2 separate regions of the Homo sapiens genome follow, and region 1 is linked to region 2. The links come from fine-mapping of genetic effects on gene expression. A gene starts in region 2. The other region holds a variant in brackets. All regions are shown on one strand. Distances are between the middles of the regions.

Region 1 (16,220 bases), 99 kb after region 2:
TACATGAGCTCCAGTGGTTTGTGTTTGTAGTTCCATGACAGTTATCTTTTCTTGATAGTTGTTCTGTACCCTACACAAGTTCAGGTTACTATTCAGACAAAGACTCAGGGAAAACTCTGAGTAGATTCTGAAGCTCCTTCTCTGCTTGGCCCTTCCTCTCTAGTACCCTGCCCCAAAAATTTCAACTGTGCATTTCCTGTGCAAGTACCTTTATTCTCAGTCTTTCTGAACTTTGATCTCTATCACCTCATCTCAGTGAGACTCCAAGTTCTGCTTAGGCTGCCTCTTCAGGGGCCTTGGTCCAGAAGCACTATCCAGGCAGAAAGCCAAGGCATCCAGGGCCCACCACATTAGTTTTTTCCTGCCATGGATTATATTCCTATGCTGCCTTTTGTTTAATGTCTAAAAACCATTTCTTTTTCAGTTTCTCTAGCTCTTTATGTCCGGAGGACTAGTTCAGTACCAGTTACTACATTTTAGCCAGAACCAGAAGCCCACTGGAGATCTTAGGAAAAGAATTTTGAGTGGATTTAGGCATAAATGAAAGAAAGTAATGAGCCAGCACATATAAGCAACTCTTCAACAAAGGGACAGAGGTAGACTGAACAGTGACTTGTGCAGAGATCTTCATCCAAATTATTGCTATTTTGTTATTTATGACTTAATCTCAATAGTATTTCTTAATGTTTGACTCTATGTGGCTAATAACTGTGTCTACTTTGGTTAGTCTTGTATCTTCAGTTAACACAATTCCCATAACACTGGCCCATAACTGGGACTTAAAAATACTTAAAAAAATACTTGCTGAATAAATAAATAAATAACAAATAAATGAATGAATGACTGGAAGAACCAGTCTCCATTTTCCAAATGCTTAAAAGTGTAATGTTATGTGAATATAACACTTGTATGTCATATTACCTGGAAATTTTATTTCTTTATCAAGCCTCCTTTAAAAACAATTTACTTTGTTTTCTAGTGGAATGTGTCCTACTTGAATCTAGAACATGACCCTTTTGCGAAATTGGTTGTCATTTTGTGAACTTTGAGGAATGCCAACCAGGAAGGAACAGTTTGCATTATGAGAAATTTGAGTAGGTACACCAATCAGATGACAGCCATACTTCAGAAACACATCTTAAAATAAATGAATAGCTCTACCTGGCCAAACATAACCTCAACAAATGACTGTTCCAGGCATCTTAACAACATACATGAGAAAAAATGAATTCAGACTTAGCATACAAAATAACTAAAATGTTTTTACCTGCAAGACATATTTTGTAAGTGAAGGCAAGTAGCTTTTGCCTTTACTGGCTGATACCAGATTACTAATTAATCACGTGAGATATTGCTAGATCAGACTTCTAACGAGTGACTTTCAGAGTCTGACGATGAAAAAGTTAAAATCTTTAGTGATGCTTTCTGCACGTATTGTCTTCTTCTCAAGAGACAATTGAGGATTTATAGGTTCTGTTAGAATGAGAAGTTTTCTCAATTCAACATATTGTGATACTTATTCTCCCTAATTTTGTGATGCCATATTCCTCCTCTACACTAGCAAAATAAGAGGAAACTAAAGCAAAATAGCTGGAGAAAAACAGACAATCTCATACATTGATAGAAATACAAAATGACCTTATCTTATAAAAAGGGAATTTGGAAATGTGTAACAGGATGACTTAAGCATTTATCTTTGACCCAGCAATCTCATTTCCAGAGATCTATCCTAAAAGTACATGGCAAAAATATGAAAAATAGAGGTGTGCAACTATATTCCTTGCAGCATTATGACTAATAGAAAGGGTGCAAGAACAATGTTTTCCAATATTTCAATAAACTATGCTATGTCCTCACAACAGAGTACTATAGAGCTGTACAAATAAAAGATGAATACTTCTAGAAGCTTCAATGTGTAGAATATTTAACTAAGAAGAGTATGTGTGTATATATACATATATATCTACAGAAAACATGTTTTATTTTAATAACTTAAAAAATTTGTACCTACAGAGGGTTAAATACATACAAGAGAAAGGAATAGAAGCAAGTCTTCCCTGAGTATACATTGTTTTGTACATTTGACAAATAACTCATGTAAATGCTTAACATTATATTAAATAAAATTAAAATTACAAAGGCCATTCTTAAAATCAAAAGCAAATAAAAAATAATGAACCTGTTTATCAGGTTAGTAGCATATTCACAAAAAGACAAAAATTTCAAGTAACTTTAAAGAATATTGATTTACTATACCCCCTATTGGGTTAGATACTAAAGACCTGAAGAACAATCTTCAACTCTTTTCAATAATCACATTATTTGTGACAGAAGTGATATAACTATTCTGAGAATATGTCATTATTTTCTGTATGTAATGAGTAATTATCGTGAGATAAATCAAATGAACTATTATCATTGAGGATTGGCGTTTTCACCATGAAAGGAATGAGATACGGATGTAAGGTTGATGAGATGAATAATAACCTGTAGTCTTAAATTGTATTTAAAATTAGTAATCAATATGAATTCACATTGTATATCATCTTTATGAATACATTGTGTGTGGGCATGTGCGTGTGTGTTTCTTAGCTTTGTCCTCTAGAAAAGTCTAGAAACAGTGACTAACTCGGTAGCAATTAGCACCTCTAGCACAAAGATCATGGTCTCTAAATATGATTTCCCACTGCAAGGAACCAGAATTCCTTGGTGAAATAATTGCTTTCAGCTTGAGAAAGAAAATGTTAAAGATGAGTCTGAAATGTCTGTTCTTCCCAGACAGTAAGAAGCTAACAAAGTCTATTGAAATCGTGAGCAAATAATTCAACAGCCACATTCAAGAGTTTTTCATTAGCCAATGGAGGGCAAATTTGGCCACAAATAAGATTAACAAATGAAATAAATTACATTAAGCATGTAAATTCATGTGTTTATAATAATACTGTAATAGTCTGTTCTCATGCTCCTAATAAAGACATACCCAAGATGAGGTTATTTATAAAGAAGAGAGGTTTAATGGACTCACAGTTGCACATGGCTGAGAAGGCCTCACAATCATGGCAGAAGGCAAAGGAGAAGCAAAGGCACGTCTTACCTGGTGGCAGGCAAGAGGGCATGTGCAGGGGAACTCCCCTTTATAAAACCATCAGATGTCATGAGACTTACTATCACTAGAAGAGCATGGGAAAAACTTGCCCCCAAGATTCAATTAACTCCCACAAGGTCACTCCCACAATGTGTGGGGATTATTATAATTCAAGATAAGATTTGGTTGGTGACACAGAGCCAAACCATATCAAATACTTAAGTCAAATTTCAGTGATCATCTTCAGAGAGTGAAAGGAAAACAATTTATTGTTTTGAAAACTAGTGGATAAGAGGATATAACCAAGAACTTACATTGCTTTTCCTATAATAATTCTACCTCAAAGTAAACATATAATATACAATGGAAAGGCATTGTTTGTAGATACACTACAGACAATAAATTTAAAAGAAATGATCACATTAAGACATCACCATTTTGTAACTCTCTTTTTTTTATGTATTTAGTCAGATTAGTCATCTACCTTTACAAAGAAAAGAGATGGCTAGACAATGTACACCTCCTAATAACAAATATAATTCTGCCTACAAGTATTTTTGAATACAGAGTAAAATACAGTAAATAAAACCCAAATCCTACTAAAAGTTTAGGTTTACTAGTTTATAAGAAATTCAGGTTTCAAAGGAATTACACAACACAATCTGGACTGTAAAAATTTCTTTAGGACAAACAACCTGTTTCTTCGACCAATAAAATGCAAGGAAAAAGCCAACAAGTTCTATATCTTAAAAGAGGTTTAGGCCAGGCACGGTGGCTCATGCCTGTAATCACAGCACTTTGGGAGGCAGAGGCAGGTGGATCACAAGTTCAGGAGATCGAGACCATCCTGGCTAACATGGTGAAAACTCATCTCTACTAAAAATACAAAAAATTAGCCAGGTGTGGTGGCAGGCACCTGTAGTCCCAGCTACTTGGGAGGCTGAGGCAGGAGAATGGTGTGAACCCGGGAGGTGGAGCTTGCAGTGAGCCAAGATCGCGCCACTGCACTCCAGCCTGGGCAACAGAGCGAGACTCCATCTCAAAAAAAAAAAAAAAAAAGAGGTTTAAAAGATAAATCAATCAACTGCAAGGTATAGATCTCTTTGGGACTTCTGAGTCAGGCAAATTGTAAAAGAAGAAAAGAGAATCAGGAAAATTAGAACACTTAGTAGATATGTAATAGTATTAAGGGGCTGGGCTTAGTGGTTCATGCCTGTAATCGCAGCATTTTGGGAGGCCAAGGCAGGCGGATCACTTGAGGTCAGGAGTTCAAAACCAGCCTGAGCAACATAGTGAAACCCCATTTCTACCAAAAATACAAAAATTAGCCAACCGTGTGGTGCACACCTATAATCCTATCTACTTGGGAGGCTGAGACAGGAGAATCACTTGAACCTGGGAAGCAGAGGTTGCAGTGAGCCAAGAGTGCCCCCACTGCACTCTAACTTGGGCAACAAAGCAAGACTTCAACTTTAAAAAAAAATAGTATTAAGTAATAATTTTTTTTTTTTTTTTGAGACAGAGTCTTGCACTGTCGCCCAGACTGTCATGCAGTGGCAAGATCTCAGCTCACTGCAACCTCTGCCTTCCTGGTCCAAGCGATTCTCTTGCCTCAGCCTCCCTAGTAACGGGAATTACAGGCACCCACCACCACACCTGGCTAATTTTTTGTATTTTTAGTAGAGTGGGGTATCATTATGTTGGCCAGGCTGGTCTCAAATGCCTGACCTCATGATCCACCTGCCTTGGCCTCCCAAAGTGCTGGGATTACAGGCATGAGCCACTGTGCCCTGCCTAAGGAATAATTTTTAATTTTTAAGTATGATAATCATATGGAAATTAACCTTTTGAAAGAGGTCTAAACTTTCAGAGATGTATATTGAAATATTTATGGAGGAAATGATATGATGTCTGGGATTTGCTTCAAAATATTTGGTGAGGGACAGGGTGCAAGATAGGATTATAGAGGACGCAAGACTTGAACTTTCACCCTATTTGGTTGTACTTTCTGAAGTTCTATGGACTAGATAGTCACACAGGGGTTAAGCTGTGTGTTGTGGCTCATGCCTGTAATCCCAGATAAAGGAACAGAAAGGCCTATATGGAAACATTTGAACACCTAGTCAGGCTAATAATTTAGTTCCTCAGAATAAATATATTTGTGAAATGTATATTAAGAGAAGCTAAGCACTGAACAGGGAAGAACAGAATGGAGGAATTAAAAGACCACCGAGTCAGTGCTTTGATCACCTTATTGTCCTAAACCCTTGATATCCCCACACTCATATGCCCACTCAGCTGAATAAAGCCCATGAAGTTACCAGAATATTTAACTATTATATATTATTTCCCAAGCGTTCCCCTTGAAGGAATCACTCCCAGAACCAACCAAGGGGCTTATCAAGATATAATTCCCAATCATGTACACTAAGTCATCTTTCAAAGATAACTTGTGGAGAATACAATTTCTTCATCTAATCCAGGGGGCTTTGGCATTTCTCACCAACTCCCCTCACTGGCAACTGCCTCCCTTCACATGGCTTCAGAGAATTTTCCTGCTAACAGAGATTGCTCAGGAAATAGCTATAAACACCTATTATCTCCCTTCCCAGAGCTTTCTTTAACAATAAGACCCTTCCCTTGGCCATCATTTCCATCATTATTTTGACTTCTCCCTTGTCCCTTAAGTCCAATTAGCTGATTGGAAACCTTCCCACATAATCTGCCATTCTTGCTTCCTTTCCATTCCCAATGCCACTGGATTTGGCTGGACCCCATAGTGAGCGAGGAAGTAAAAAGAGAATAGCTAGGCAGATAGCTAGGTCAAAATTCCTCAGTAGAACTTCCTTTCTCACAAAAAGCAGCCCAAGAAAACACGTGTCTCCTAACAAAGAGCAGCCTGGAAGATTGTGCTGCAAACATAGATAAGGAAGCTGGAAGCTTGCAGCTGGGAGCTGCCGCACTAGAAAGGGGTACCTGGGGCCAGTCATGTGCACCATGAGGGCTCCGCCTCCCACTTTTTTTTTTCTTTTTCTTTTTTTTGCACCTGCACAGTAGGAAAGCAACATGGAGTAGCTCAGGCAAAGGACCCGCCTCCATAATAAAAGGCTGGGATGGGGGCTGCCAGAGATTCGCACTCTATGCTGATGGTACACCTGGTCTTAACTGTTTTTTCACACCCTATGTAGGTAAAATACTGCCTCCCCACTAGGTCACTTATAAAAACTGTCAGGCCTCTGAGCCCAAGCCAAGCCATCGCATCCCCTGTGACTTGCACGTATACGCCCAGATGGCCTGAAGTAACTGAAGAATCACAAAAGAACTGAAAAGGCCCTGCCCCGCCTTAACTGATGACATTCCACCATGGTGATTTGTTCTTGCCCCACCTTAACTGAGTGATTAACCCTGTGAATTTCCTTCTCCTGGCTCAGCAGCTCCCCCACTGAGCACCTTGTGACCCCCGCCCCTGCCCACCAGAGAACAACCCCCTTTGACTGTAATTTTCCATTACCTTCCCAAATCCTATAAAACGGCCCCACCCCATCTCCCTTCGCTGACTCTCTTTTCGGACTCAGCCCGCCTGCCCCCAGGTGAAATAAACAGCCATGTTGCTCACACAAAGCCTGTTTGGTGTCTCTTCACATGGACTCGAGTGAACTTTGATGCCGTGGCTCGGATCGGGGGACCTCCCTTAGGAGATCAATCCCCCGTCCTCCTGCTCTTTGCTCCATGAGAAAGATCCACCTACGACCTTAGGTCCTCAGACCAACCAGCCCAAGAAACATCTCACCAATTTTAAATCCAGTAAGCCGCCTCTTTTTACTCTCTTCTCCAACCTCCCTCACTATCCCTCAACCTCTTTCTCCTTTCAATCTTGGCGCCACACTTCAATCTCTCCCTTCTCTTAGTTTCAATTCCTTTCATTTTCTGGTAGAGACAAAGGAGACACGTTTTATCTGTGGACCCAAAACTCCAGCGCTGGTCACGGACTGGGAAGGCAGCCTTCCCTTGCTGTTTAATCATTGCAGGGACACCTCTCTGATTATTCACCCACGTTTCAAGGGTGTCAGACCATGCAGGGATGCCTGCCTTGGTCCTTCACCCTTAGCGGCAAGTCCCGCTTTTCTGGGGAAGGGGAAAGTACCCCAACCCCTTCTCTCTGTGTCTCTACCCGTTCTCTGCTTTTCTGGGGAAGGGGCAAGTACCCCAACCCCTTCTCTCTGTGTCTCTACCCCTTCCCTGCTTTTCTGGGGAAGGGGCAAGTACCCCAACCCCTTCTCTTCTTGTCTCTACCCCTTCTCTGATTTTCTGGGGCAGGGGCAAGAACCCCTCAACCCCTTCTCCTTCACCCTTAGTGGCAAGTCCCACTTTTCTGGGGGAGGGGAAAGTACCCCTCAACCCCTTCTCCTTCACCCTTAGTGGCAAGTCCCGCTTTTCTAGGGGGCAAGAACCCCCAATCCCTTATTTCCACACCCCGACCTCTTATTTCTGTGACCCAATCCCTTATTTCCACACCCCAACCTCTTATCTCTGTGCCCCAATCCCTTATTTCCATGCCCCAACCCCCCTTCCCACTTTTCTAGGGGGCAAGAACCCCCAATCCCTTATTTCCACACCCTGACCTCTTATCTCTGTGCCCCAATCCCTTATTTCTGTGCCCCAACCCTTTCTCTGCTTTTCTGGAGGGCAAGAAACCCCCACCCCTTCTCCGTGTCTCTACTCTTTTCTCTGGGCTTGCCTCCTTCACTATGGGCAAGCTTCCACCTTCCATTCCTCCTTCTTCTCCCTTAGCCTGTATTCTTAAGAACTTAAAACCTCTTCAACTCTCACCTGACCTAAAATCTAAGTGTCTCATTTTCTTCTGCAATGCCTCTTGACCCCAATACAAACTCTACAGTAGTTCCAAATAGCCGGAAAACGGCACTTTCAATTTTTCCATCCTACAAGATCTAAATAATTCTTGTCATAAAATGGGCAAATGGTCTGAGGTGCCTGACATCCAGGCATTCTTTTACACATCAGTCCCTTCCTAGTCTCTGTGCCCAGTGCAACTCATTCTGAATCTTCCTTCTTTCCCTC[C/T]CGCCTGTCCCCTCAGTCCCAACCCCAAGCGTCACTGAGTCTTTCTAATCTTCCTTTTCTACAGACCCATCTGACCTCTCCCCTCCTTGCCAGGCCAAGCTAGGTCCCAATTCTTCCTCAGCCTCCGCTCCTCCACCCTGTAATCTTTTTATCGCCTCCCCTCCTCACACCTGGTCTGGCTTACAGTTTCGTTCTGTGACTAGCCCTCCCCCACCTGCCCAGCAATTTACTCTTAAAAAGGTGGCTGGAGCCAAAGGCATAGTCAAGGTTAATGCTCCTTTTTCTTTATCCCAAATCAGAAGCGTTTAGGCTCTTTTTCATCAAATATAAAAACCCAGCCCAGTTCATGTCTCGTTCGGCAGCAACCCTGAGATGCTTTACAGCCCTAGACCCTAAAAGGTCAAAAGGCCATCTTATTCTCAATACACATTTTATTACCCAATCTGCTCCCGACATTAAATAAAACTCCAAAAATTAGAATCTGGCCCTCAAACCCCACAACAGGACTTAATTAACCTCACCTTCAAGGTGTACAATAATAAAAAAAAGGAAGTTGCAATTCCTTGCCTCCACTGTGAGACAAACCCCAGCCACATCTCCAGCACACAACAACTTCCAAATGCCTGAACCGCAGTGGCCAGACATTCCTCCAGAACCTCCTCCCCCAGGAGCTTGCTGCAAGTGCCAGAAATCTGACCACCAGGGCAAGGAATGCCTGCAGCCCAGGGATTCCTCCTAAGCCATGTCCCATCTGTGCGGGACCCCACTGGAAATCGGACTGTTCAACTCACCTGGCAGCCACTCCCAGCGCCCCTGGAACTCTGGCCCAAGGCTCTCTGACTGACTCCTTCTTGGCTTAGTGGCTGAAGACTGACGCTGCCTGATCGCCTCAGAAGCCCTGTAGACCACCATGGACACCGAGCTTTAGGTAACTCTCACAGTGGAGGGTAAGTCTGTCCCCTTCTTAATCAATATGGAGGCTACCCACTCCACATTACCTTCTTTTCAAGGGCCTGTTTCCCTTGCCTCCATAACTGTTGTGGGTATTGACAGCCAGGCTTCTAAACCTCTTAAAACTCCCCAACTCTGGTGCCAACTTGAACAACACTCTTTTATGCACTCTTTTTTAGTTATCTCCACCTGCCCAGTTCCCTTATCAGGCCGAGATATTTTAACCAAATTATCTGCTTCCCTGACTATTCCTGGACTACAGCTGCATCTCATTGCTGCCCTTCTTCCCAATCCAAAGCCTCCTTTGCGTCCTCCTCTTGTATTCCCCCACCTTAACCCACAAGTATAAGATACCTCTACTCCCTCCTTGGCGACCGATCATGCACCCCTTACCATCTCATTAAAACCTAATCACGCTTACCCGACTCAATGCCAATATCCCATCCCACAGCATGCTTTGAAAGGATTAAAGCCTGTTATCACTCACCTGCTACAGCATGGCCTTTTAAAGCCTATAAACTCTCCTTACAATTCCCCCGTTTTACCTGTCCTAAAACCAGACAAGGCTTACAACTTAGTTCAGAATCTGTGCCTTATCAACCAAATTGTTTTGCCTATCCACCCCGTGGTGCCAAACCCATATACTCTCCTATCCTCAATACCTCCCTCTACTACCCATTATTCTGTTCTGGATCTCAAACATGCTTTCTTTACTATTCCTTTGCACTCTTCATCTCAGCCTCTCTTTGCCTTCACTTAGACTGACCCTGACACCCATTAGGCTCAGCAGCTTACCTGGGCTGTGCTGCCGCAAGGTTCCAGGGACAGCCCTCATTACTTCAGCCAAGCTCTTTCTCATGATCTACTTTCTTTCCACCCCTCCACTTCTCACCTTATTCAATATATTGATGACCTTCTTCTTTGTAGCCCCTCCTTTGAATCTTCTCAACAAGACATACTTCTGCTCCTTCAGCATTTATTCTCCAAAGGATATCGGGTATCCCCCTCCAAAGCTCAAATTTCTTCTCCATCCGTTACCTACCTCGGCATAATTCTTCACAAAAACACAGGTGCTCTCCCTGCTGATGGTGTCTGATTAATCTCCCAAACCTCAATCCCTTACAAAACAACAACTCCTTTCCTTCCTAGGCATGGTTAGTGCGGTCAGAATTCTTACACAAGAGCCAGGACCCCACCCTGTAGCCTTTCTGTCCAAACAACTTGACCTTACTGTTTTAGCCTAGCCCTCATGTCTGCATGCAGCAGCTGCCGCTGCTTTAATAATTTTAGAGGCCCTAAAAATCACAAACTATGTTCAACTCACTCTCTACATTTCTCATAACTTCCAAAATCTATTTTCTTCCTCATACCTGACGCATATACTTTCTGCTCCCCGGCTCCTTCAGCTGTACTCATTCTTTGTTAAGTCCCACAATTACCATTGTTCCTGGCCCAGACTTCAATCTGGCCTCCCACATTATTCCTGATACCACACCTGATCCCCATGACTGCATCTCTCTGATCCACCTGACATTCACCCCATTTCCCCATATTACAAGCCACTAGCCCATCTCTTAGAACCTCTCATTTCCTTTCCATTGTAGAAATCTATCCTCAAGGAAATAACTTCTCAGTGTTCCATCTGCTATTCTATCTGCTATTCTGCTACTCCTCAAGGATCATTCAGGCCCCTCCCTTCCCTACACATCAAGCTCGAGGATTTGCCCCCGCCCAGGACTGGCAAATTAGCTTTACTCCACATGCCCCGAGTCACAAAAACTAAAATACCTCTTAGTCTAAGTAGACATTTTCACTAGATAGGTAGAGGCCTTTCCTACAGGGTCTGAGAAGGCCACCGCAGTCATTTCTTCCCTTCTGTCAGACATAATTCCTCAGTTTAGCCTTCCCACCTCTATACAGTCTGATAACAGACCAGGCTTTATTAGTCAAATTAGCCAAGCAGTTTTTCAGTTTATATCCCTTATAGTCCTCTGTCTTCAAGAAAAGTAGAACGGACTAAAGGTCTTTTAAAAACACACCTCACCAAGCTCAGCCACCAACTTAAAAAGAACTGGACAATACTTTTACCACTTTCCCTTCTCAGAAGTCAGACCTGTCCTCAGAATGCTACAAGGTACAGTCCATTTAAGCTCCTTTTTATTAGGCCCCAGTCTCATCCCAGACACCAGACCAACTTAGACTGTGCCCCCAAAAAAACTTGTCATCCCTACTATTTTCCGTCTAGTCATACTCCTATTCTCCGTTCTCAACTACTCATACATGCCCTGCTCTTGTTTACACTGCCAGTTTACACTGTTTCTCCAAGCCATCATGGCTGATATCTCCTCATGCTATCCCCAAACTGCCACTCTTAACTCTTGAAGTAAATAAATAATCTTCGCTGGAAGGACTATGCTGAACCTCCTTAGGCATTCTCTAATTAGATGTCCTAGATCCTCCCAATTCTTAGTCCTTTTATACCTGTTTTTCTCCTTCTCTTATTCCATTTAGTTTTTCAGTTCATACAAAACCGTATCCAGGCCATCACCAATCTTTCTGTATGACAAATGTTTCTTCTAACAACCCCCTCAATGTCACCCCTTACCACAAGACCTCCCTTCAGCTTAATCTCTCCCACTCTAGGTTCCCACGCCGCCCCTAATCCCGCTTGAAGCAGCCCTGAGAAACATCGCCCATTCTCTCTCCATACCACCCCCCAAAAATTTTCACCGCCCCAACACTTCAACACAATTTTGTTTTATTTTTCTTATTAATATAAGAAGGCAGGAATGTCAGGCCTCTGAGCCCAAGCCAAGCCATCGCATCCCCTGTGACTTGCACGTATACGCCCAGATGGCCTGAAGTAACTGAAGAATCACAAAAGAACTGAAAAGGCCCTGCCCCGCCTTAACTGATGACATTCCACCATGGTGATTTGTTCTTGCCCCACCTTAACTGAGTGATTAACCCTGTGAATTTCCTTCTCCTGGCTCAGAAGCTCCCCCACTGAGCACCTTGTGACCCCCGCCCCTGCCCACCAGAGAACAACCCCCTTTGACTGTAATTTTCCATTACCTTCCCAAATCCTATAAAACGGCCCCACCCCTATCTCCCTTCGCTGACTCTCTTTTCGGACTCAGCCCGCCTGCCCCCAGGTGAAATAAACAGCCATGTTGCTCACACAAAGCCTGTTTGGTGTCTCTTCACACGGACGCGCATGAAAAAAACCCTTTCATTTTACTGTGGGACGGCAACCCTTTCTGGGACCCCTCTCTGCAGCAGAGAACTGTTCTCTTTCTTTCACCTGTTAAACTTCTGCTTCTGCTCTGACCTCGTCCTTGGTGTGTCTGCATCGTCGATTTCCTCAGCTGTGAGACCAACGACTTGGGCACCCACCCAGGCAACAAGGCCTTTTCAGTAAGGGAAGTGGTAAAATGTTTTCAATCCCTGTTGCCAAAAATCGGCCTAAGGCTTCCCAAAAAAAGTAACCCAAAGCAGACATGGCAAATATTTGCTACATTTGATAATAAGCCAATAAATTATCTGCTAATAAGTGACTGAAATATTTAGCACACATCTGCCTTATTCTGATGACTGATCACATTTCTAGCTCCCCTGTGGACTAAAACAATATGCTTTCCTTCTCTACACAAGCAATGCTTTCTGCAGAGACACAAACTTTACATCTGAATACAAATGCAGCACGTTTTAATTCTGCCTCTCATTCTCCAGCAAAATCATGGGGAAGAAGGAAAACATCCTTAGTCAAAAGGGGTACAGGGACTTAGAACCTCACCATGCTGCAGTCACACAGGCAATAGAGAAAGATGGCGGTGGTTCCCTGGGGCAGTTCCCCTCTCAAGCAAGGAGACAGGGGCAGCACTCCTACCATCTCCCCAGGGATATAGGAGTTAAGAAGGAATTGCTTAGGCAGATAGCAAGGGCATGGGAGTCCTGGGTAAGGCTTTTCTTTTTAATGAAAAGCAGCCCCAAGTCATTTTCTAACAAAGAGCAGCCTGCAAGCTGGGAGCTTGCATAGGTGAATGCCAGCAGGAACTAAGGACTAGACATTTTCAAACTGGTGGCTCCATCTTCCCTTCCCTGCCAGCCAAGTGTATTGTAAGGAGCAGAGAAGATGGCTCTGATCAACTGGAAAGCCTATTTGCATAATTAGATTAGGGTGGGGCAACCAGCCTTCCCCCGCACACTATGTAGACGTCATACCTGATGGAACCAGTCTGTGAGCCCTATGTAAATCAGACACCGCCTTCTCCAACTTATTATATCTGTTTTGGTCCACTGCCTCCCCACTTTTCAGATGTCTCTCTCTCTCTCTCTCTCTAAGAGCTGCTCTCCTCTCTCCTTTCTTCTATCTATTAAATTTTCCACTCCCTAACCCACCCACATGTGATTGTGTCCTGAATTCTTGGTGTGTGACGATGAACCCCAGGGTGTATACCCCAGACAGCACAGCCACTTCACCAGCAGGGACAGCAGCTGTCACATGAACTGGAGATGAACTGGAGGTGAGTCTGATGTCTCGGAATTTTGAGGAAAGTGGGTAGAAAGTTGCCAAGCAAGCTGAAGAGACAAGCAAAAGGGATCATATTCCAGAAGAATTCTTAGCAAGACCACAGTCAGAACTTCAATCAAGGTGATTGATTGGTCTGAAAGGGGGAATAGAATGTAAATAAAATACAACCATGAGAAACCACATGTATGTTGTTGAACCTTATCTAGACACTAACTGTGAAAAAGCCAGCTTGGATTATTGATGAACGACATTCAGAAAACCACAATTTTGCCATGCTTATTTAGAGAACAGAGACAGTGGTATTATCAGCCTATAGCTCAATTGTAAAATTGGGATGACTAGATGTCCCGAGACTATTCTGTTCCTCGGCCCTCTCGACACTCACCTAAGAAGCTTCCAAATTTACCACTTCTCAGTCATTGTAAGGATGCTGCATGTCATAAGGATGATTATGGAAGATTATGGGCATGTTCTACATAGAGAACAAGAAAAGTCACAATATTTTCTTTTATAAATTTATATTTTGGAATTTATATTAGTTCCCCTAACTCTAAATAACCATGGGAATATTGACAAATTTGATTTTCCAGAACTTTAAAGCTGAGGCTAGACACTAACCACAGTGACTTTATCTATGTAGTAGCACACTCTACCAGCTGGGATGTCTGGATAACAAGTTCCCCAGATTGCAGCCTCCCTCCAGCACCAAGTAGGATTACGAGTCTGTTTGGTTTCATTTTAGCTATGTAGATTTGTCAAATTTTGTCACCTCTGGACTTCAGTTTTCTCATATGTAAAATGATGCATTGGCCTGAATGTTTTCGGAGAACCTTCAATCTCTGTGAGTCTCTTCACTGAAAAAATTGTTGACTTTCTTTTTTTTATTGTTCTGTTTTTCTTTTCTATGTCAAAAAAGCACTATGGTAAAAGTCTTTCAGTAAAACTTGAACCTTGGGGCTTGTTCCTGAGTTTGACATGTTAAACAAATGAAAGAACTGTTTTCAACTGATTAGTCATATCCTTCAATTCCTACGGGAATATGGGTTCGTTGTGCATGAGAAAGTCAGCCAACTTTGGCATGAAGATGTCTTTCAGGTAGGTAGGCCACCTGTGATGAAGTGAATCATTGAAGAAAGTCTATTTTCTTGTGGCATAAATACAAGCCTGAAGATTACACATAAGCTGTCATACACGTACCTCCTAAATGCAATTCCTCAGAAGTGACATGCTATCATCATTCACATTAATGTCTATTTGTGCAACTACATTGTTTAAAATAATCAACCAATTCATCACAATAGATATTTGGGAGGAGTGAGGGAGCTTTCTCTGTACTAATGAAAGAAATGACATTTCTGTTTACCATTTGTCAGTTTTAAGTAGTTAATAAATATCTGAAATGATTTTCATATTTTGATATGGTATTCACTTGTAAGGATATGCAATTTTTAAGAGTTATGGTGAGAATGTTTCTTCCATAACATTCAGCTTTGAAAAGTTTTAGGAAACTATTCATTATGTCTCAAAAGTTAAATGCACGACAAATGAAATGCCTCTTATTGGTTGCAATTTTCTAAAAGTAAGTAATGCCTATTACTTTGATATTTAACTCAAATATATTAACAATAATTGAAAGCTTTTGAGTGCTACAGGTTGATAATAAACCTGAAAGTATAGAATAATCATCTGTATTTTAAAATTTTTATTCTTAAGGCCAACAAAACAAAGTAAGAATTATGTCAGTGTTTCTAACTGTCCTACCCAGATCTAGCTCCTGACTGATAATTGTCAACAGAGTCAAACACGCCTTCCTAAGGCCAGCTCCACTTCTCCAAAGCAAGCTCCTCTCACTTTGCCACCCAGAAGCCACACTGGAACCTGGAATCTAAAGAATGTGTTTGCATTATCAAAGAACTCTCCCTCTCCTAAAGGGTCCACCCTGGGATTCCATTCTAGTGACTTGACAAAATGCTTCTAATTACTCCTTAGTTAGTTCCCATAATCCGCTTAAGGACTTGTTTACTTGTTGACAGGCAGGGTAGGAATTCAGCCTTGACAGTCTGTGTCAGTGCAACATCATAAATAAGATAAACATTATCTGAAGTGATCACAATGTTCTTGAACATCTGTGCAACATCATAAATAAGATAAACATTATCTGAAGTGATCACAATGTTCTTGAACATCTGAGCCGGACAGAATCAAGCCTGCGTCATCTTCCTTCTGATTTTCCAAATGAGCACACAGGAGAGGCCACTCTAAAGTCACCCTGGGAATGTGTCTGCCTCCAGCCCCATTCACGGCCCCTGGCACTGGCTTGTCATGAGATGGTGTTCAATGAATGCTTGTGGAATTGAATGAACACAATGTGGATTTACACCCTTTCCTGTCAAATAGCTAGTTCTAAAAAATACAGACCTGCACTTCAGCCATGCAATGCCTTTTAAGATGTTTCATACTCTGATGCAGAGGAAGATGTCTCTTGCCATTACAGAACCACACCGAGAAAGATCAAACAAAATCACACCAAGAAAATTCATGTGCAGATCATCTCATTTGCAATTATTGCAG
Region 2 (8,000 bases):
TAATGAAAAATAAAGACTGAATAATAATCAGAACATACAGGTTAAAGTTCCATTCTATCTCTTTCCAACTGCATGACTCTGAGTAACCCTAATTCCTTCTTCAGCAAAATAAGGATAACATCTCTGCCTATGGAGGTACCGGTGATTGGGATTGGGGTGGTAATACACCGTTCTGCCATATTTAAAGTATAATAAAGCAAATGATGTGTGTTGTCCCATTCAAATAATTTATTAGTCTAAATCTTTAGAAAAGCCTAACTTTAAGACAGTCAGAATCAACTGTGTCCCAACAGAAAAGAACCAAAGTCTCACGCATATCCTTGATGCTGAATCAAAAGTCTCCAATAGGTTGCAGCTTTTTTGAGGTTCCTTAGGAAGCAAGAGCCAATCCCAGGTGCACCTGTGAAGTCAGAGAAAGGGAACTTGGCAGAGGTGGTGATGGGGGGATGTCTGGCCCCTTGATGGCAGTTGTGCCTGATTTGCAAAGTCTGATTTTGTGCCTAAGGGTAATGCAGTGACCATGGGGAAACCTACCTCCATTGGACATTTTTCCAAATAGAAGCATTTGCTGTGTTTCACTTTATTAATATTACATCACTTTAAAAAGTCTTCATCAGGCCCTTCAGTGGAATTTGGACAGTGGCTTTCGTGTTCGTACCTCTCAAAACACTTAACATAGGACAAGCATTACATATTTAAGTAATTATCTTAGTGTGCAGAATGCGGAAGTCGAGTATTGAAGTTCAGTATTCCAACATGGACACTAAAAGTGTTTATAGTGATGTTGAAAATATCACTATAGTGTTTCTTATCACTCAAGTGTTTCTTATTTTTTCCAAAGCTGTAAGATTGCCTTAATTTATTTAAATGTAATCATTCAGAAAACTCCTGAAACATGAACTCATTGCTTTCTCATGACAGGCAATACTATAATGACAAGTTATTTGATCTATGACATCAAAAATTCTTTATAAATATGTTTGAATGCAACAAATTATTGTTACCACTTGACATTTTCCTTTTTGTTTGACATTGTTGTGGCAAAATTTGGTGAATATTATATAGGCTACAAATTTTATTAAAGATTATTATTATTTTAAATGTCATGAATGTTTGATTTGATGTTTTATTATTTTCTCCAAATGTTTTATTCAGTATATTCAGTACATGTTATCAGAAAATAATTATGTTTTCTAAAATTTATTTTAGGTTTTGAAACTAACATGAACATAAGTAGCCGAGATGACCCTAGTACGTCAGAAATTACTTCCGAGACTCAAGACAGAAATGCAAATAACCATGGAATTCAGTTATCTAATTCACTATCTAGTGCTATAACTGCTGAAAATGGAAATTCCATCTCAAATGGTAAGCACTTTTTAAACTCAGAAGTAAATGTACAAAAGTTTTAGGCTGTATCAACTTTCTGGGAGGAATGGATTTAAAATATGAAAATGAAGTAGGGTTAAGAACTGGAAAATAGAATATAAACCATGAAACTCCCCTGCAAGTATTATTGTCAGCATATGATTGCTTCAGTTAAAGAATTGGAATTCTATTCACTCCTTGTTGACTTTTCCGAAATTTTATGGAGTGTTAATCTAAAAGAACTGGTCCAAAATTAGTCTTATACTGAGCAGAAGAAGGCAATAGATTCTCTACCAATATTTTTAATTAAAAAATTATTCTGGAAACTAAGAAATGTGAAGGAAAATAATATTAAAGAAATGATAAGTGCCAGACTGGCTTCAGGTATTTTAAGTACATCAATGAGTGCCACATTTAGAAAGTGGCTTGATTGCAGGTACAAAAGCTGAGGATCACGCAAGTATTTTCTCTCACAAATAAAAGAAGACAAAGGCGTCTGGGAATAACTGATGGGAAGACTCAGACCAACTATTCCTGAGGGCCTCCCGCAGGGCTGGGAAAAGCATGTTTGTTTAGTCTAATTAGAGGCGTGGGAGAACCATCATGATGCTGAAATGCTGGGAAGCAGTTGAAGACCTGGGAGTGGGGTGCAAGGTGAGCCGAAGCAAGGAAGCCCACACTTGAAGCTTGGCTCATGGGGACATAAGGGTACCCACATTGTTCAGAGAAGGCAGCTAAGAAGTCAAGTTGTGCTTCTGACTGCCTTCTCAAATTACAGGGCAAGAAACTGAGTCGTGGCCCCACCAAGGCCTTGGGGTGGGGCCTTCAAGTGTTCTTCCCAAGAGTCAGAGTGAACCAGAACCAAGAACCATGTTGAGTTGCCCAGATGTAACCAGGCCTACAGGTACCTGGGAGAAACACGTGTACATTTTCCCCAAAGGGCAGTAATAGCATCCTAGGCTTCAAAACATTCATAGAAACCATTTTTCAAATGCAAAGTCCAACACAGTTAGAAATAACCAGGCATAGGAGCACACAAAATAAGATAAAAAATTAAAAGCAGAGACGGCAGCCAATTGCAATATGTCCACAGGGATTCAAAAGGTTGGAATTCAAAGACACATGCCTTAAAATAAGTATGTTTACTCAGCCCCCCACGAAATAAAACAACGAGAATTTCAGCAGAAATAGGAAACTATAAGGAAATCGTCAAATGGAAATTCTGAAATTGGAAAATGCAGTAATAAAATTGAGTACAACAGAGGATAAAGTTAAATTTAATTAGATATAGTTGTTTAAAAACAAAACAAATAAAAAATAACTGGAGAAGTGGAAGATAACTCAGAAAATCCCCAGAATGAAACAGATTGAAGCAAAAGGGAAGAATGGAAACTCCAGACAATGGTTTAGAGATATAAAGGGCAATGAGGAGGATGATTGAAGTCTTAGGGAAAGAAGAGGGAGCGCATGAGCAGAAGAAAGACTTGGTGAGAAATGTTAGAGCATCTCCCAATGCTGACGAAAGAGCACCAGGAAACAGATTTAAGTTGGCAGATTTTTATAACATTCAACATACATTCTTCACGGGATCCAGCAATCTGACTCCTCAGTATCTTCCCAAGAGAAATGACAGCAGTGTCCACACAAACACCTGTATGCAAATGCATATGGTGACATTATTCATAATCACATAAAACTGGAAATAAATTCAGTGTCTTTCAACTGATGACTGGCTTGTATTAGTGATCCATCACTGTGCAAAATATTACTCCCAAAACTTGGAGGCTTATATAAGAAATGGTTATTATTTCATAGTTTCTGTGGGCCAGGAAGCTGTGTGTGGCTTAGCAGGGTGCCTTTGGTTTAAGGTCCCCCATGAGACAGCAATCAAGCTGTCAGCCAAGACCACAGTCATCTTGAGACTTGAGTGAAGGCTGATCCATTTTCAAGGTCACTCACGTGGCTATTGGCAGGCCACAGAAGGTTCACATCCAAGTCAACTCACATGGGCAGCCTCCCAGCACAGCAGCTCTCCCCACATCCCTGAGCAAGCAATCCAAGAGAGAGCACCCCAGATGGAGGCTGCAGTCTTCACATAACCCAGTCTTGAAAATGACACCCCAGCACTCTGTCACGTTTGATTGAGTCACTAAATCCAGGCCACACTCAATGGGTGGGGAGTCCGTGAGTGCCTGGAGGTGGGCTCACCAGCATCTCACAGGCTGAACTAGCACATGGATGAAGCCTGCAATAAATAAGAGTGATCAACTATAATGAGCATCATAAAAAAAAGGGATGGCTAAAGCATTGTGTTGAGGTTAAAAAAAAAAAATCAAAAGACTAAGTGTGATCCTGCTTATGTAACATTTGGGGAAAAGCAAAGCTGGAGACAGAAAACAGCTGAGTGGTTGCTGGAGGCTGGGCGTAATGGCAGGAGATGAAGTTCAGAAGGACATGTGGTGTTATAGACAACCTGGAGTGCTCATGTCTGCAGATGCACAGATGTGTATGTCTAAAAAAGGTGAATCTCACTGTCTCTAAATTACACCATAATCAATCCAACGTTTGTAAAAATGAAACAGAAACCTTTGCAAAGCCTAAGTAGGATACATAAAACTTTCCTAGGTGTATCATAGTAAAACACCTATAAAATAAAGACCGAGAATTAATTTTAAAAGCAGTTAGAGGTAAAAATATGTACTATCTTCGAAAAGTAGCAACTGAAGTCCAAAGACAATGAAATAACATAGTTAACATGCTCAAATAAAATAACTGCCCCCCAAAAATTCCTGTAATAATGAAAGGGAGTTAAGGATATTTTTAGGAAAAAAAATAAAAATGAAAGGAATTAAACACTGACAGACTCAGAATGCTTAGAGATAAAGGAAAGAATAAAGAATAACTAAAAAGGCAGTAAAATTTGGAGGGGTAAAATAATATTTAATATTATACACTGATAAACCTACCTTGCCAGTTGTAACCTCAAAGGTAACCCCTGAAAGAATATTAGTGGGGTAGATAATATCCAAACTAGTAAAGAGAGAAAAATAAAATCATAAAAAGTCAACTCAAAAGATGCAAAAAGGGGATAAAATAGGAAAAATAGGGCAAGGAGAAAGTTCTGAGACAGTAGATATGAAAACACATGTGAAAATAAACTTTATTTAATTATAATAAACTTTAAAAGGCTTATTTAATGTAAACTTATATGAAAAATGATTAGCAGAATATTTTAAAAACTAAGTTTTCTGAAAACAGTAAAACATAAGGATTCTGAAAGAGTAAATGTAAAGGGATAGAAAAGAAAAAGATACAATGTGCAAATATTAAAAAGCAGCAAAAACAGTGCTCATATATTTGAACGTCAAAAATTACATCTCTAGGCCAGGCGCGGTGGCTCACGCCTGCAATCCCAGCACTTTGGGAGGCCGAGGCAGGCAGATCACCTGAGGTCAGGAGTTCGAGACCAGCCTGGCCAACATGGTGAAACCCCCATCTCTACTAAAAATACAAAAATCAGCTGGGCTTGGTGGTATATGCCTTTAATCCCGGCGACTCGGAAAGCTGAGGTAGGAGAATTGCTTGAACCCAGGAGGCGGAGTTTGCAGTGAGCCCTGATCGCGCCACTGCACTCCAGCCTGGGTGACAGAGCCAGACTTTGTCTAAAAAAATAAGATAAAATAAAATCTCTAAGTAATCAATGTATTCAAGAAGAAATCACAAAATAAATTAAAAAGCAAAATATTTTAACTAATGACAATGCAAATATGACAACAGAACTTTTAGGACATGTCTAATGTCTTTTGTGTATGAGTGGAAGGGGCTCGGGTACAGTGTCGGTATGGTCAATATGTGGCTGTATGGCATCGTGGCCATGGCTGGGCTTTTAGTGTCCACATCAACTGAATAGTATATATTGTCCTGATTAAGTCGTTTCATATGCTTCATTCCATCCCATCCTCCCACCTTGCCACCCTTCTGAGTCTCCAGTGTCTATTATTCCACACTCTGTGCCCAAGTGTACACGTTATTTAGCTCCCACTTATAAGTGAGAACATGTAGCATTTTTCTTTCTGTGTCTTAGTTATTTCACCTAAGATAATGGCCTCCAGTTCCATCCATGTTACTGCAAAAGATCTCTTAAGAAATGGAAATGTATGGCTTCAAACCTTTGCATCACAAGAGAACAAATACGATGAGTGTTAAAAGGGTCTAGAAATTAGAAACAGAACAAAAACTAAATACTATGAAAATGGAAGGAAAGATATGATAGTGATAATAAGAACATAAGTTATTGAAATATAAAACAAATAAAATAATGTGAAGGGATAGAAAGGAAGGAAAGAGAAAGTTGTTTATCTTTTAAAAAATTATCTTTGAAAACAATAAGATTGAAAATTTTCTTGCAAGGGGATAGAGAAATAGAGAAAATTGGCACAAATAACAGATTTTAGATTGAAAAGGGGACATCAATACAGATCTGGCTGAAATTAAAAATAGTAAGAGAATATTACAAACAGTTTTACACCAAGATAAATTTACAAATTTACATAAACAAATACATTCTTAAAAAAAAAAGAACTAACGAAAATGGACAAAAGAAGTAGGAAAGCTAAATAACACCGTAAATGTTAAATTAATGGAATTTGTAATTGAATGCCTTCCTACAAGGAAAATTCCAGAATCAGATGGTTTCTCCACTAAATGTTTCCAAAATTCTAAGGATTAAATAACTCCAATGTCACGTACACGCTTTCAGAGAATAGGAAGGAAGGAGAAAGAAAATAATATTACTCCAGCTTGCATAATTAGCCACTTAATTTATGACAAAATTGGCATGTGAGAGCACTGGGGAAGAATAATTGATTGCTATCCATGTGGAGCAAACAGTGAAACTCGACTCTGCCTAATGCTATACACACAACAATTCCTGATAGATTATAGATCTGTATGTCAAATGTCAAATCATAAAATGGATAGAAGAAACAATAGGAGAGTATCTTTCTTACTTCATAAAAGGAAAGAAGGGCTTGTTAAGCAAGACACAAAAGTTTTAACCATAAAGAAAAAAGAAAAAAAAAAACATAAATAGGGAGAAAATATTTTTAACACATTTACCCAACAAAGGCTAATATTCAACGTTTATTTAAATTAAAAACAAAAGACAGCTGAAAAGAAAATTGGACAGAATATGTGAATACCACTTAGAAAAACAATTTTAATGGAGTCCAACCTCATTAGTAACTAGAGAAATGTAACTGAAGACTCCAGGGCAATACTACTACACACACTCTAGAATTACAGACCCGCCTGAAAAGGAAGAGGTGCTCGGAGAACGGACTGCCACAAAGTGAGGATGGCAATTTCATTTGGAGGGGAAGGCCAGTAGCGATTTGGAGAGATGACTACAGGAGCTTCCGCAGAGCTGCCAGTGTTCTATTTCTTTATTTTATTTGTGTGGTTGTTACAATTCTGCAATTTAAAAAAAAAAGGAGGAAGAAAGAGATGGAGAAAGGGAACTTCTCTTCACCAAAATATTTAAGTTTTCTGTGTTTTGAGGCAAAAGGCAAAAACTACAGCTTCGGAAATGATCCTAAAAAACTTAATAATAATAATAATAAAAACGGCAAGTCATACTCTAAATATCAAAACATAACCAAAAACCAAGGAAACAAGCAGAAACCCTCTAGACCAAAATGGAGATGTTTGTGAAATAGGATCCATGAAATTAATAATATAAATTCTTTAGGAGTATCAGGGTTCTAAACTTCAGCATGTAACACATAGTGTGTACGGCCAAAGCCTGCAACACAGATTTCTGTGTTCTCCCTTAACACACTTACAATTTTTAAAATAAAGTTGGTTCTATGCTGTCATTAAGTAAAAACCACTTGAAAATCTCAAGAGTTATGCGTGCAAAAGGAAAATTATTTCAATTGGAAATTCAATCTTTCAAAGCAACTTGACACATTTATGCTGATCTACTCTTGTGAGCGCCATGAATTTCTGGGGGCCTGGAACTTTCCCCATGATTTTTAAAACATCCAGCACAATACCCTTTATACTTAGGCCCTGAGTAAGCATTTGCTGATTGAAACAATGTTGTTTGTTACGGAGGAACCAGTAAATCCCATACAGAGGGCAGAGTCAGAAAAACTGCCTCGTCAGTATTATAGAAATTGAACAAACATTACACATGTGCAGAATGTGATGTATACATGAGCATGATAACTCTTAAAGCAATTATTAGTACAGGTTCATAACTTACAAAGTGCAGCCAATGCACTTTCTAAATAAGGGCACAAGATGAAAATAAATGTTTAAAATAACTTAAAGTTCTAATTGAATCAGAAACAGTGTTATTTTCTAGGAAACATTTCTCTTTTGAATGCCAGTATCTGCATGCTACCTCTGCTTCCCAGAAATAATTATCTGTTTGTTCATTTGTTGAAATATAGTTATGTGTGCGTAATTATAGCTATCACTTACTTTAATTGCCATCCTTTTACTGATGCGAGCGCAGACTTGGATCTTTTTTTTGTATATTTAATTATTCCCTGGACTTGTGGTTATTTATCATTAGATTAGAGAGCAGTTTTTAGTGTTAGAACATTTTAGCTTTATCAAACAAA

The links. PIP is the estimated chance that this variant, and not a neighbour inherited with it, causes the effect.
Region 1: its variant is fine-mapped to the expression of MYO16-AS1 in whole blood (INTERVAL, PIP above 0.99). The same link has a PIP of 0.9 or more in neutrophils.

The regions. Positions count from the first base shown.
Region 1 is chr13:109,258,779-109,274,998 of GRCh38, forward strand. It overlaps LINC03061 (long intergenic non-protein coding RNA 3061), which reads left to right and starts at 6,709. Exons shown (of 2, transcript NR_185883.1): 1 at 6,709-6,889; 2 at 8,833-12,297. LOC130494219 (a long non-coding RNA gene) reads left to right here and starts at 13,425. Exons shown (of 2, transcript NR_185888.1): 1 at 13,425-13,641. RefSeq lists enhancers at 8,493-9,451, 11,969-12,697. The variant C/T (reference allele first, on the strand shown) is at 8,165.
Region 2 is chr13:109,163,692-109,171,691 of GRCh38, forward strand. MYO16-AS1 (MYO16 antisense RNA 1) reads right to left here and starts at 3,612. Exons shown (of 3, transcript NR_047700.1): 1 at 3,328-3,612; 2 at 2,945-3,019; 3 at 214-400. MYO16 (myosin XVI) reads left to right here. Exons shown (of 35, transcript NM_001198950.3): 33 at 1,210-1,368.